Linked DNA regions of Homo sapiens: region 2 is linked to region 1. The links come from fine-mapping of genetic effects on gene expression. A gene starts in region 1. The other region holds a variant in brackets. All regions are shown on one strand. Distances are from middle to middle. Region 1 holds the start of DNPH1 (2'-deoxynucleoside 5'-phosphate N-hydrolase 1). Region 2 has its middle 34 kb from the start of LINC03040.

What was found. PIP is the estimated chance that this variant, and not a neighbour inherited with it, causes the effect.
Region 2: its variant is fine-mapped to the expression of DNPH1 in vagina (GTEx, PIP 0.99).

What each region holds. Positions count from the first base shown.
Region 1 is chr6:43,226,975-43,232,342 of GRCh38, reverse strand. DNPH1 (2'-deoxynucleoside 5'-phosphate N-hydrolase 1) reads left to right here and starts at 2,862. Exons shown (of 4, transcript NM_006443.3): 1 at 2,862-3,082. The coding sequence starts at 2,887. RefSeq lists silencers at 2,564-3,003, 3,064-3,253 and an enhancer at 2,581-3,080.
Region 2 is chr6:43,963,908-43,969,275 of GRCh38, reverse strand. No RefSeq gene overlaps it. Among named protein-coding and RNA genes, the nearest start is that of LINC03040, 34 kb to the left of the region's middle. RefSeq lists an enhancer at 3,759-4,258. The variant TC/C (reference allele first, on the strand shown) is at 2,036.

The DNA.
Region 1 (5,368 bases):
TAGTTCTAGAAACCAGGGATAGGCTAGGCACAGTGGCTCACACCTGTAATCCCAGTACTTTGGGAGGCTGAGGTGGGAGGATTGCTTGAGCCCAGGAGTTTAAGATAAGCCTGGGCAACATAGTGAGACCCCATTTCTATAAAAAATTAGCCAGGCATGGTGGCACTCGCCTGTAGTCCCAGCTATTCAGGAGGATGATGAGGGAGGATTGCTTGATCCTAAGAGTTTGAGGCTGCAGTGAGCTGTGACCATGACACTGCACTCCAGCCTGGGTGACAGAGCAAGACACCATCTCTTAAGAAAGAAAAGAAAGAAAGAGAAAAAAAGAGAAAGAAAGAAAGGGAGGAAGGAAGGGAGGGAGGAAGGGAAAGAAAGAAGAGAGAGAGAGGAAGGAAGGAAGGGGAAAGAAGGAAGAAAGAAGGAGAAAGAAAGAAAAAGAAAGAAAGAAAGAAGAAAGAAGGAGGAAGGAAGGAAGGAAAGGAAGGACGGGAGGGAGGAAGGAAGGAAAGAAAGAAAAAGAAAGAAAGAAGAAAGAAAGAGAAAGAAGGAAAGAAAGAAAAGAAAGAAAGCAGGAATACAGCAGTGAACGACCTTCTACTAGGTATAGAAAAACATGCAACAAAATTAATAAGTTATATGGTGTATGAGAAGGAGAAAAGGCAAGGTAGGGAAGGGTGATAGAGAGTACTGGGGGATGGAGGGCTGCCATATTGAATAGGGTGATCAGGGAAGGTGAAGTGTGAACAAAGACTTGAAGGAAATGAGGAGTGAGCCAGGAAGCTACCTGGGAGAACAGTGTTCCGGGCAGAGGGAACAGCAAATGCAAAGACTCTGAGGCAAGGGCATGGCTGACATGCTTAAGGAACAGCCAGGAAGCCAGTGAGGTGGCAGAGAAGTGAATGAAAGTAATAGAAGCTGGAGTTAGGGAAGTAAGAGGGTGACAGGATCATCTGGAGCCTTGTGAGCTACTGTGAGGTTTTCAGTTTTTACCCCAAGTGAGATGGGAACCACTGGAGGGTTTTGAGCAGAGGAGGGTCATGACCTAGATCACTCAAGCTGCTGAGTGGAGAGCAAACTGTAGCAGGGAAGGGCCAGGGGAGGTGTATAGAGAACCCTTGACATAAGTAATTCCATCTTAGAAAGACTCCATCACTGGGCACATTCGCTTATGCCTGTAATCCCAGCGCTTTGGGAGGCTGAGGTAGGGGGATTGCTTGGGTCTAGGAGTTTTGAGACCAGCCGTGGAAACATAGTGAGACCTCGTCTCTACAATTTTTTTTTTTTTGAGATGGAGTTTCACTCTGTTGCCTAGGCTGGAGTGCAGTGGCGTGATCTTGGCTCACTGCAACCTCTGCCTCCCGGGTTCAAGCGATTCTCCAGCCTCAGCCTCTGGAGTAGCTGGGACTACAGGAGTGTGCCACCACGCCTGGCTAACTTTTTGTATTTTTAGTAGAGACGGGGTTTCACCGCGTTAGCCAGGATGGTCTCGATCTCCTGACCTCGTGATCTGCCCACCTCGGCCTCCCAAAGTGCTGGGATTACAGACATGAGCCACCGAGCCCAGCCAATTTTTTTTTTATTAGCTCAGCATGGTGGCACGTGCCTGTAGTCCTAGCTACTCAGGAAGCTGAGGTGGGAGGATTCCTTGAACCCTCAAACTTGAGGCACGAGTTTGAGGCTGCAGTGAGCAATGATCGTGCCTCTGCACTCCAGTGTGGGCGACAGGGACCTTGTCACCAAAAATAATAAATAAATAAATAAATAAAGTTTTAAAAAACTTCATCTTACATTTCAAAAGGCATCAAGCCAACAGGGTCCAGATGTTCGCCTAACCAATGGAGACAACACCCAACCAGATAAGGGCATCACCCTTTACTATAAGTCCTCATCAGAGGACTCAAGGACCATAAAATGATCAGGACTTCAGCAGCTAGACACGGCCACCTTAACAGACCGAGTCTTGCTATCACTCGTGCCCAGCACCTGGTGTCTGCCTCTGAAGGCTCTGCCCAAATCAAGGACTCTTCCTTGCAAGCTCTTGATGACTATCCCCATCAGGCCGGGACTCTGTCCACAGCACTCTCCTTGGACTGGTTCGTTAACCCCTTTTCTCTTGATGTTAAATGTTCTTGTGTTTGATGTGAAATTTTAACCTGTAACATTTATATCCTTACATATAATACTATGGATGGTTTGCAATACAGTCTGACTTGTGGAGTGGCTCCAGCTTGCATGCCCGCGGCTCTGACTACCGAGTGAACAGGTGGTCCTAAGGAGAACTGACTTCTTGGGAACTCCGTGTGACGCCTAGCTTTTGTGATTGAAATAGCATCAGTAAAAACCTGATCTTGTGGACAGACACAAAGGTGGGTGGACCTGGTTCTGTCTGACCTTGAGCAGCTCACGACATGTGGACACCTGTTAGGAGGCTGTGGAGAGCCCAGAGGAGGCTTAGACCAGGGTGGTGGCCCTGTAGGCGGTCGTGAGATTTCAGATTTGGAAGGACGAATCCACACGAGTTGTCAATGGATGGGACGCAGAGTTTGAGAGAAAGGGAACGATCCAGATGACTCCGAGGGTCTTGGGCCTGAGCAGCTGGGAGGATGCAGCTGGGGAAGACGGCGGGGAGGAGGGGAGCAGAAGCGGGTGAGGTGGGGAAGCCCTCGAGTTCTGCCTGGACAAGGTCAAGTTAAGGTGCGTGTTAGGCATCCGAACGTCAAGTCCAGGAAGGGTGTGTTCCCGAAAGGGTCCCGGCTGGATCCTCCCAGTTCGTCGTCCCCATTCCACAGGTGTGGACTCAGCAGCCGGGCTCTGCGCTGGGCCGGGCGGGGTCACGTGGCCGCGGGCTGGCGCCCCCTGGCGCCGGAGAGCGCGGGCGGCTGGGGAATGGCTGCTGCCATGGTGCCGGGGCGCAGCGAGAGCTGGGAGCGCGGGGAGCCTGGCCGCCCGGCCCTGTACTTCTGCGGGAGCATTCGCGGCGGACGCGAGGACAGGACGCTGTACGAGCGGATCGTGTCTCGGCTGCGGCGATTCGGGACAGTGCTCACCGAGCACGTGGCGGCCGCCGAGCTGGGCGCGCGCGGTGAGGCCCTGGGGCCGCGGGACGCGGGGACGCGGGCGCGGACCTGGCTGGGGTGGCAGGGACCCGGCCTGTCCGCCCCCCCGACCCCCGGCAGCTGCGCTCCCGGCGCCCGGAGCCCGCCCTCCTACCCCGGTGCTCCATCCAGCGCCCCAGCCCGAGAAGGAAACGGGCCGGGGCTCGGGCTGCGTGGGTCCCAGCAAGCCTGCGGGTGTAAGGCAGACTCAGCATTATCTTGACCTTTGGTTCCTTCTTGGAGAACTCTGTCTTCAGCTGCTTTCAGAGCGTTTGTAGGGTGCAACAGAAAGAAGGTAGATTGGGCTGCTTTGCTTGGGCTCAGTTCCCACCTCACCCGCTGGAATCTTTTCCACCACCCAACACGAAAGGTATCCTCCTGCCTCCCCACCAACTTTTTTTGTTTTGTTTTGTTTTGTTTTTGAAACGGAATCTCACTCTGTCGCCCAGGCTGGAGTGCAGTTGCGTGATCTCGGCTCACTGCAACCTCGACCTCCCGGGTTCAAGTGATTCTCTTGCCTCAGCCTCCCGAGTAGCTGGGACTACAGGCACGCGTCACCACACCCGGCTACTTTTTGTATTTTTAGTAGAGACGGTGTTTCACCATATTGGTCAGGCTGGTTTCGAACTCCTGACCTCAGGTGATCTGCCCGCCTCGGCCTCCCAAAGTGCTGGGATTACAGACAGGAGCCACCGCCCAGGGCCTGCCTCCCCTTTTTCTGTGAAGACATCAGCACTCTTTTAGACCTGGCTGACCCCAGTTCTCACTATTACCCTCTCTCACATTTTTGTTTTGTTGATACAAGGGCCTCTCTGTCGCCCAGGCTGGAGTGCAGTGGTGCGATCATAGCTCACTGCAGCCTCGGCTTCCTAAACTCATGATCCTCCAGCCTCAGCCTCCTATTAGCAAGGACTGCAGGGGCACGACACCATGCCTGGCTCAAAATTTTTCTGTAGAGATTGGGAGTCTCACTATGTTGCCCAGTCTGGTCCCGACCTCCTAGCCTCAAGTGATCCTCCCGCCTCAGGCCTCCCGAAGTGCTGGGACTATAGATGTGAGCCCCCATGCTGGCCTCATATTCTCTTTCAGGCCATTATTGTGTTCTGCTCCTGGCTGCTGGGTTTTTCTTTCTCTTTCTATTTATTTAGTTATTTATTTGGAAACAGTCTTGTTCTATTACCCATGCTGGAGTGCAGTGGCAAAATCTCAGCTCACTGCTAACCTCTGCCTCCCGGGCTTGAGCAATCCTCCCACCTCAGCCTCCCAAGTAGCTGGGACTACAGGTGTGTGCCGCCATACCTGGTTAAGTTTTGTATTTTTTATAGGGACGGGATTTTGCCATGTTGGCCAGGCTGGTCTTGAACTCCTGAGCCCAAGTGATCTGCCTGCCTCAGCCTCCCAAAGTGTTGGGATTACAGACATGAGCCGCTGAGTCTGGCTGGATTTCTCTAAAGCATATTTGATGTGCTGGTCTGGAATCTTGCAGATCCTTCCAGTTTGAAAATTGTATCTTGAATGCTTGTGCTTCTGCTCAGAAAACCTTAAGTGGTTTCCACTTATCCTACCCAAGAGCAGACCCACAATTTGTGGGACCTCATGCAATTCTGGGAGACCTCTTTAAAAAGACAAAAATCACAATACAAAGTTGCTGATGGTTTGGAAAGGGCCTGTGCAAGTGGAGGACCCTGAAGCTTACAGCTCATTAGTTCATGGTATATCCAGACTGCCTGGTGGCTCTCCAGGTCTTTAGTGTCATCTGAGGGAGCCTGTTAAAAATGCAGGTTCTGATCATCTGGGATAAAGCCTTCGAATATGTACTTTTTTTTTTCCCCCAAGACAGAGTCTTGCTCTGTCGCCCAGGGTGGAGTGCAGTGGAGTGATCTCCGCTCATTGCAACCTCCTCCTCCCAGGTTCAAGCAATTTTCCTGCCTCAGCCTCCCGAGTAGCTGGGATTACAGGCGCCTGCTACCACGCCTGGCTAATTTTTTAATTTTTAGTGGAGATGGGGTTCCACCATGTTGGCCAGACTGGTCTCAAACTCCTGACCTCGTGATCCTACCGCCTTGGCCTCCCAAAGTGCTGGGATTACAGGCGTGAGCCACCGCGCCTGGCCCGAATCTGTACTTTTTCTTGTTTTTTTTAAGATGGAGTTTTGCTCTGTTGCCCAGGCTGGAGTGCAGTGGTGCGATCTCAGCTCACTGCAACTTCCGCCTCCTGGGTTCAAGTGATTCTCCTGCTTCAGCCTCCCAAGTTGCTGGGATTACAGGTGTGCA
Region 2 (5,368 bases), 740 kb before region 1:
CGGACTATGCTGCCCATTGCACAGATGGGGAAACTGAGTCCCTGGGCAAATGAGGAGCTTTCCCCCAAGCACACAGCCAGGAAGACTGTGTTCATTGCAGTCCTCTCCCCACTCTACCCAGGTCGCAGGAAAGCACTGGCAGTTTGCAGGATCCCTGAGCCTGAGCCATAGGTGCCGAAAAAGCAGCTGATTGACTGTCCTTTATAACTTCAAAGCAAGTAGCATCATCTTTGTCTCCTTAAGATCCAACATGGAGTTTAAGAGAGAAGTCAGAAAGAACCTGCTGACAGTAGGAAATGAGGGAAACTGTGGAATTCACTTTTCTGAGGGCATTTTAACTAACAGATACGCAAGCAAGTCTGCCTAGTCCAGCAGTTCAGGTTGTCTGCTGTATCAGAGGATGAAATTTCTTTAATTCAAACTGACATTTTCAAAAGGGTTGTGGGGGTGGGTGCTGTGGACTAGCCACCCTTGTACCATGCTTTGACTGGTCTGGCCTGGGAGAGAAGCGGTGGTGCCCGTCCCTACTCTTGCTCCTGGCCTTGTCTGCTCCCTGCCTTGCCCCCCTGCCCACCTTGGCTGCCTCCGGTCTCCCGTGATTGAAATCTCCCTGCTGGTCTCAGAGCTGACCTTCCCGCCTTTAATTCAATCAGGAATCACAAGCCCTTTTAATATAGGAAATAAAAGGCTGGCTGCTGAGCAGGCTGCACCTGATTGACGGGGCTGCCAGCTTGGTCAGGCTGGCCTGGGGAGGGGGCATAGACCCGTGACCTCAGCTGGCCTCTCTGGGGTAGGAATGCTCCCCCGAGCCTGGGGAACAAAGGAGGACCACCCCCCTCCTGATTCCCAGCAGAGGAGGGACCAAGGCCACATGGTAGGGGGTGGCTGCTGGCTGGCCCAGAGAAGCTGGGGAATGTCAAGCTCTCACTGCAGCCTGAGGGACTTGGGGTAGACACGAGGGAGGACTTTGCAACTGACTAATTCCTCTGTTCTTGTTATGTGATTCTGGGTTGATGCTCCAAAGTATTGCAACAACGCATTTTTATTTTCCAAAAAAGTAGAAGGGGTGCCAGAGGAATCAATGCTAGCTTTTCTGGACTTTGGTTTCTCATCCATATATAAAGGTGGGCAGGGACCCAGCCACCGGGCTGTTGTGAGCATTAAATGAGTTAATGAAAGCTCACTGGCACATAATAATCGCTCATTAAATTATAGCTAATAACATTCTTAATAATTTATTCTTCTAGAGGCATACAGAGGTCTCCACTTCTACTTGGAAGTGGAGGAGACTTGGGGGAGAGAGTCCAGGGTCCTGGGCCCTGTTGCTTGCTTTCTCTCCTTGGAGACAGCCCAGGACAGGTCCCGTCAGCACCTAGGTTCCTTCCCCGGGGGAGGCAGGCTGGGGCAGTGGAAAGCTGCCTGCTCAAGGAGTAGAATTCTGGTTCAGCATATTTTGGCCTCACTTCTCTGAGCCTTAGTTTCTTCCTTTGGAAAATGGGCTAGTAGCACCTACCTGGTAGGATTGCTTTGATGCTCTTTAAAGTGCCCAGGCCAGAGCCTACCAAGTATTAATAGGAGGTGCTCAGATTGTGGTACCTCTCTCTCCTGAGCCCCCAATCAAGTGCTCAGCCCAGCCTACCCGAGTGGTTTTGGCTTCCATCCTGAACCTACCCTGGCCCTATGGGAAACCCCATTTCCCTGTGATCTGAAGCTGAGCTCTAAGAGGCCACTACCCTGTTCCTGTTCAACCATATTGCATAAATGTCCTATGGCCTGATTCCCACAGGGTTCTGCCTGTGGCCAGGATCTGCCTCAGATGCTCCTTCCACTGTGGCTGGTTTTACTTTCCAGAGGTGAATGAGCCTGTAGAATGAACCACCTTAGGGCAGGCGGAGATGGCTGGCAGCTCCCCATGTGTGTACAGCCCAGTGCCTAGCATGAAGAGATGCTCAAGGAGGTCTCTCCCCAAAGTCTGCCCCACCCTCCTGTCCTAGGCGTATTATAAAAACATATACTATAACATCATTCTTTGGTT[TC/C]TCAATAAGCAATGCTACACAGCTCCTGTATAAAATATGTTTGGCGATAAAGGTAATAGTCACAGTGGACGCCCACTTGAGCTTCAGGCTTACTCCGTGCTAGACTTGGTGTTGAGTGCTTGAGACACACTGTCTCTCTCCTACTTCCCTATGAGGTAGAGATTGCACTGCATCTTTGAGGAGACTGACACTCAAAGAGGTTGAGTAACTTCTCCAAGCTGACCCAGCTACTAAGCAGCAGTGCTGGGATCTGAATCCAAGCCCATTGTCAGCCCTCTGCAGACTTGGCTGGGCAGTTCGTAGAAGAGTCTCACGTCCGTTGTTGCATTTGATGGCGTAGCAACCTCAGGGTTTTGCCAAGTGTGTGATTGTCATTATTATGATCCCATCCTACAGGAGAGGAAATGGAGATTCCCACATCACACAGTAAGTAAAGATGGGACAGGGACTTGCACTTCCGCACTGTGCTCAGGTCTCCACTGTAAGCACAGCCTCCCTCCTGGTTTAAAAGCATTCCCTTACTGCTTAACATCAGTGTTCCAACGGGATAGTTCATTCATCCATTTGGTAAATATTTATCAGGCACCTACTATATTTTAGGCCCTGTGTGGGAGATTAGTGCTGAACAAGCCAGAACCTGTTCCCTTCCTGAAGCTTTCCATCTCTGTGGGTGAGAAAAACTTGAAATAACTGCACACACAAAAATGATAAAAACTGTGATAAGTATTGTTCTTGAGGTGGGGTGGGTGGGTGATCAGAGAAGAACATTGAAGTGTGAATGCAGATCAGCCCTGGAAAGTGGGTTTGGAGGCTGGGAAGAGCAGTCTAGGCAGAGGCTCTGAGACAAGAGTGAGCCTGTGAATAAGGGTGGAGGCACTCAGAGGAAGAGCAGGAGGAAAGGGGCCAGAGCCTACATGGCCTGGGGGGCTCACCCTCACCCTAAGAGGAGGGCCTAAGGTTGGTTTTTATTTCAGGATAGTAGAGAGGAGAGTGGAGGGGGCTGAGTGGGTACAGGGACCTCAGTCAGGAAGCAACCTTAGTGGTCCAGGCACAGGGCTGAAGGGGGCTGGAGGGGAGGAAAAAGGAGATGGGGCTGAGTAGCTCTACCCACACCCCCCATCCAGGGCCTTTCTAGCCCTTTCCCAGGTGCTTGCTGCTGTGGTCAATGTTCAGGGTACCCTGACCCCCAGGCAGTGGCTGGTTATTGTTTCACGACCAGCTCTCTGGGTGAAAAAGTCCTCTTTTGTAGCATTTGCCAATTTCTGTGGTGTAAATACTCCCACCATGGCTGACTTCAGACTACCAACCTGAAGTCAATGGATAAGCAGTTGGGAAGAAAAGTTTACAACTGTCCAAGCTGCAGCAGATTGGCTCCAACACACTACTGCCCTCAGGTCTCAGAAAGGCAGTAGTTCTGATGAAGTGCCATTGGTATACGTCTCACCCTCTATGTAATTCCCGATTCCTGTGTGTATATTGGGGGTTGGGGGAGTAGAGAGGGTGAAGGCTGGATGAGGAGGGGTGTGGGGGAAGGGAGGTTGGTAAGGAATTAATAATAATGACCACTCCCTCTAGTCTTTCTGATGACTCCAAGAGATTGGTACTATTATTAATCCCACTTCATAGATGAAGAAACTAAGACACACATTGAATAACTTGTCCAAGGTCTCACAGCAATAAGGGACAAAACTGGGAACTCAAACCACCTCATTCCTGGGGTGAAGACTTTGCCCTCCTGAATCTCTGCCCTGTCCTGCCTGTGAGCTGGCTAAGAGGGAGGGAGATGGGGGAGAGTTAGGAGGGGACAATGAATGGAGGAAGAGCTAGCTAGGAAGAAGGAGGAAGCTGTCAGCAGCAGGAGGTTGGGGGGTGGGGTGTCATTTGAAATTATCTGGTTGGAATCCTAATGTGGGCGAGGTGGGAGGTTGGAGTGGCCTCTACAAGTCAGTCTGGGGTGAACCAGGATTTTTAAAAGGAGATTATGAGCTTCCACTGAGAATGTTCCCGGGAGAGGGTGCAGCAAGTTGGGGTGGGCAGGGGTCAGGCACCTGGAAGGCCCCACACACACACACCAGGTACTGCCACAGAGAGGGGGCACCAGGCCAGAGTCCACACAGCCTGCTGCCTCCAGATTTGTAAGGCAAGTGACTCTACAGCCCCGACAGCTCAGCAATGACATGGGAGCAGTCGGGTCAGCCCAAGCAGCCCTGGAACAGCTCCAGTCAAACAGGGATTGCTGGCCCCTCTCCCACCCCCCACCTTCCCTGCTGTGCCCACCCCACACCCAAGGTCAATGACCTAGTGTTTGGCAACATCCTCCAGGGCCCAGTGCAGATTGGGCAAGGTAGGTGGGAGTGGGTGGACGTGGGGATGGGGCTTGGCCAGGGAGCCAGGATAGCCAGTGAGTCCTCCCCTCAACCAAGTGATCTGCAAGAGTTGGGCTCAGCTCTCCCACCACCTGAGTTCTCTGCTCTGCAAAGGCTGGTGGCTCACTGGCAGCTCCTCGCAGAGCACCAGGCTGCAGCTTATACACTCCCACATCCACAGCCTGCTCCTCCATGCACTATCATTCCCTCTCAGCTCCCCTCTCTCCTTCCTCCCTGCTTGGCTCAGAATTGCCATTGTGCTTTTGACATTTCCTTTTCAAAGTTCTTTCCGGCCCTGGGAAGAAAGTCCTGCTTGTGTTCTAAAGACCTAGTGTCCTCTCTTTGGCCCTCAGTTTCCCCATCCTGCACAATGGAGAGAAGTTCTCACGAGACTCTGTGAACCCATTAAGCAGTCAGCATATTGTGTATGTCTGGGGTCAGGGGAGCATCATCCTTCAAACCTACCTGCTTGGTGCTAAGCACACAGTAGGTGCTTTATGGATTGGTTGGTGAGTCTGCCTTGCCTGGAAGTTGGGGATGAGGAATCTTCTAAGGGGCAATGGGCTTGCACCCAGTGGTCATCCTAGGGATGGTATGGGAGTGGCCATGCTGTCTTTGTCCTTTCAAGGAGCCCCTGGCTATTCTGCTTAATTGCTATTATACTCATCATCCCATTTTACAAATGAAAGACCAACCCGGAAGAGGTTACATTGCTTCCCCGAAGTCCCTCAGCTAGTATGTGGCAGAGCCAAGATTTGAACTCAGGCAGCCTGGCTCCAGGGCCCACAAACTTAACCGGTGGACGACATGCCCTTCCTTGTAGTTGAAGTCAATGATTTCCAAAGTGGGAAGAGCTTATATACATATAATACATATATATAAGTTTATAATATATATGTTATATATTATATATATATACTTGATATATAATATATATTATATAATATATTATATATAATATATACT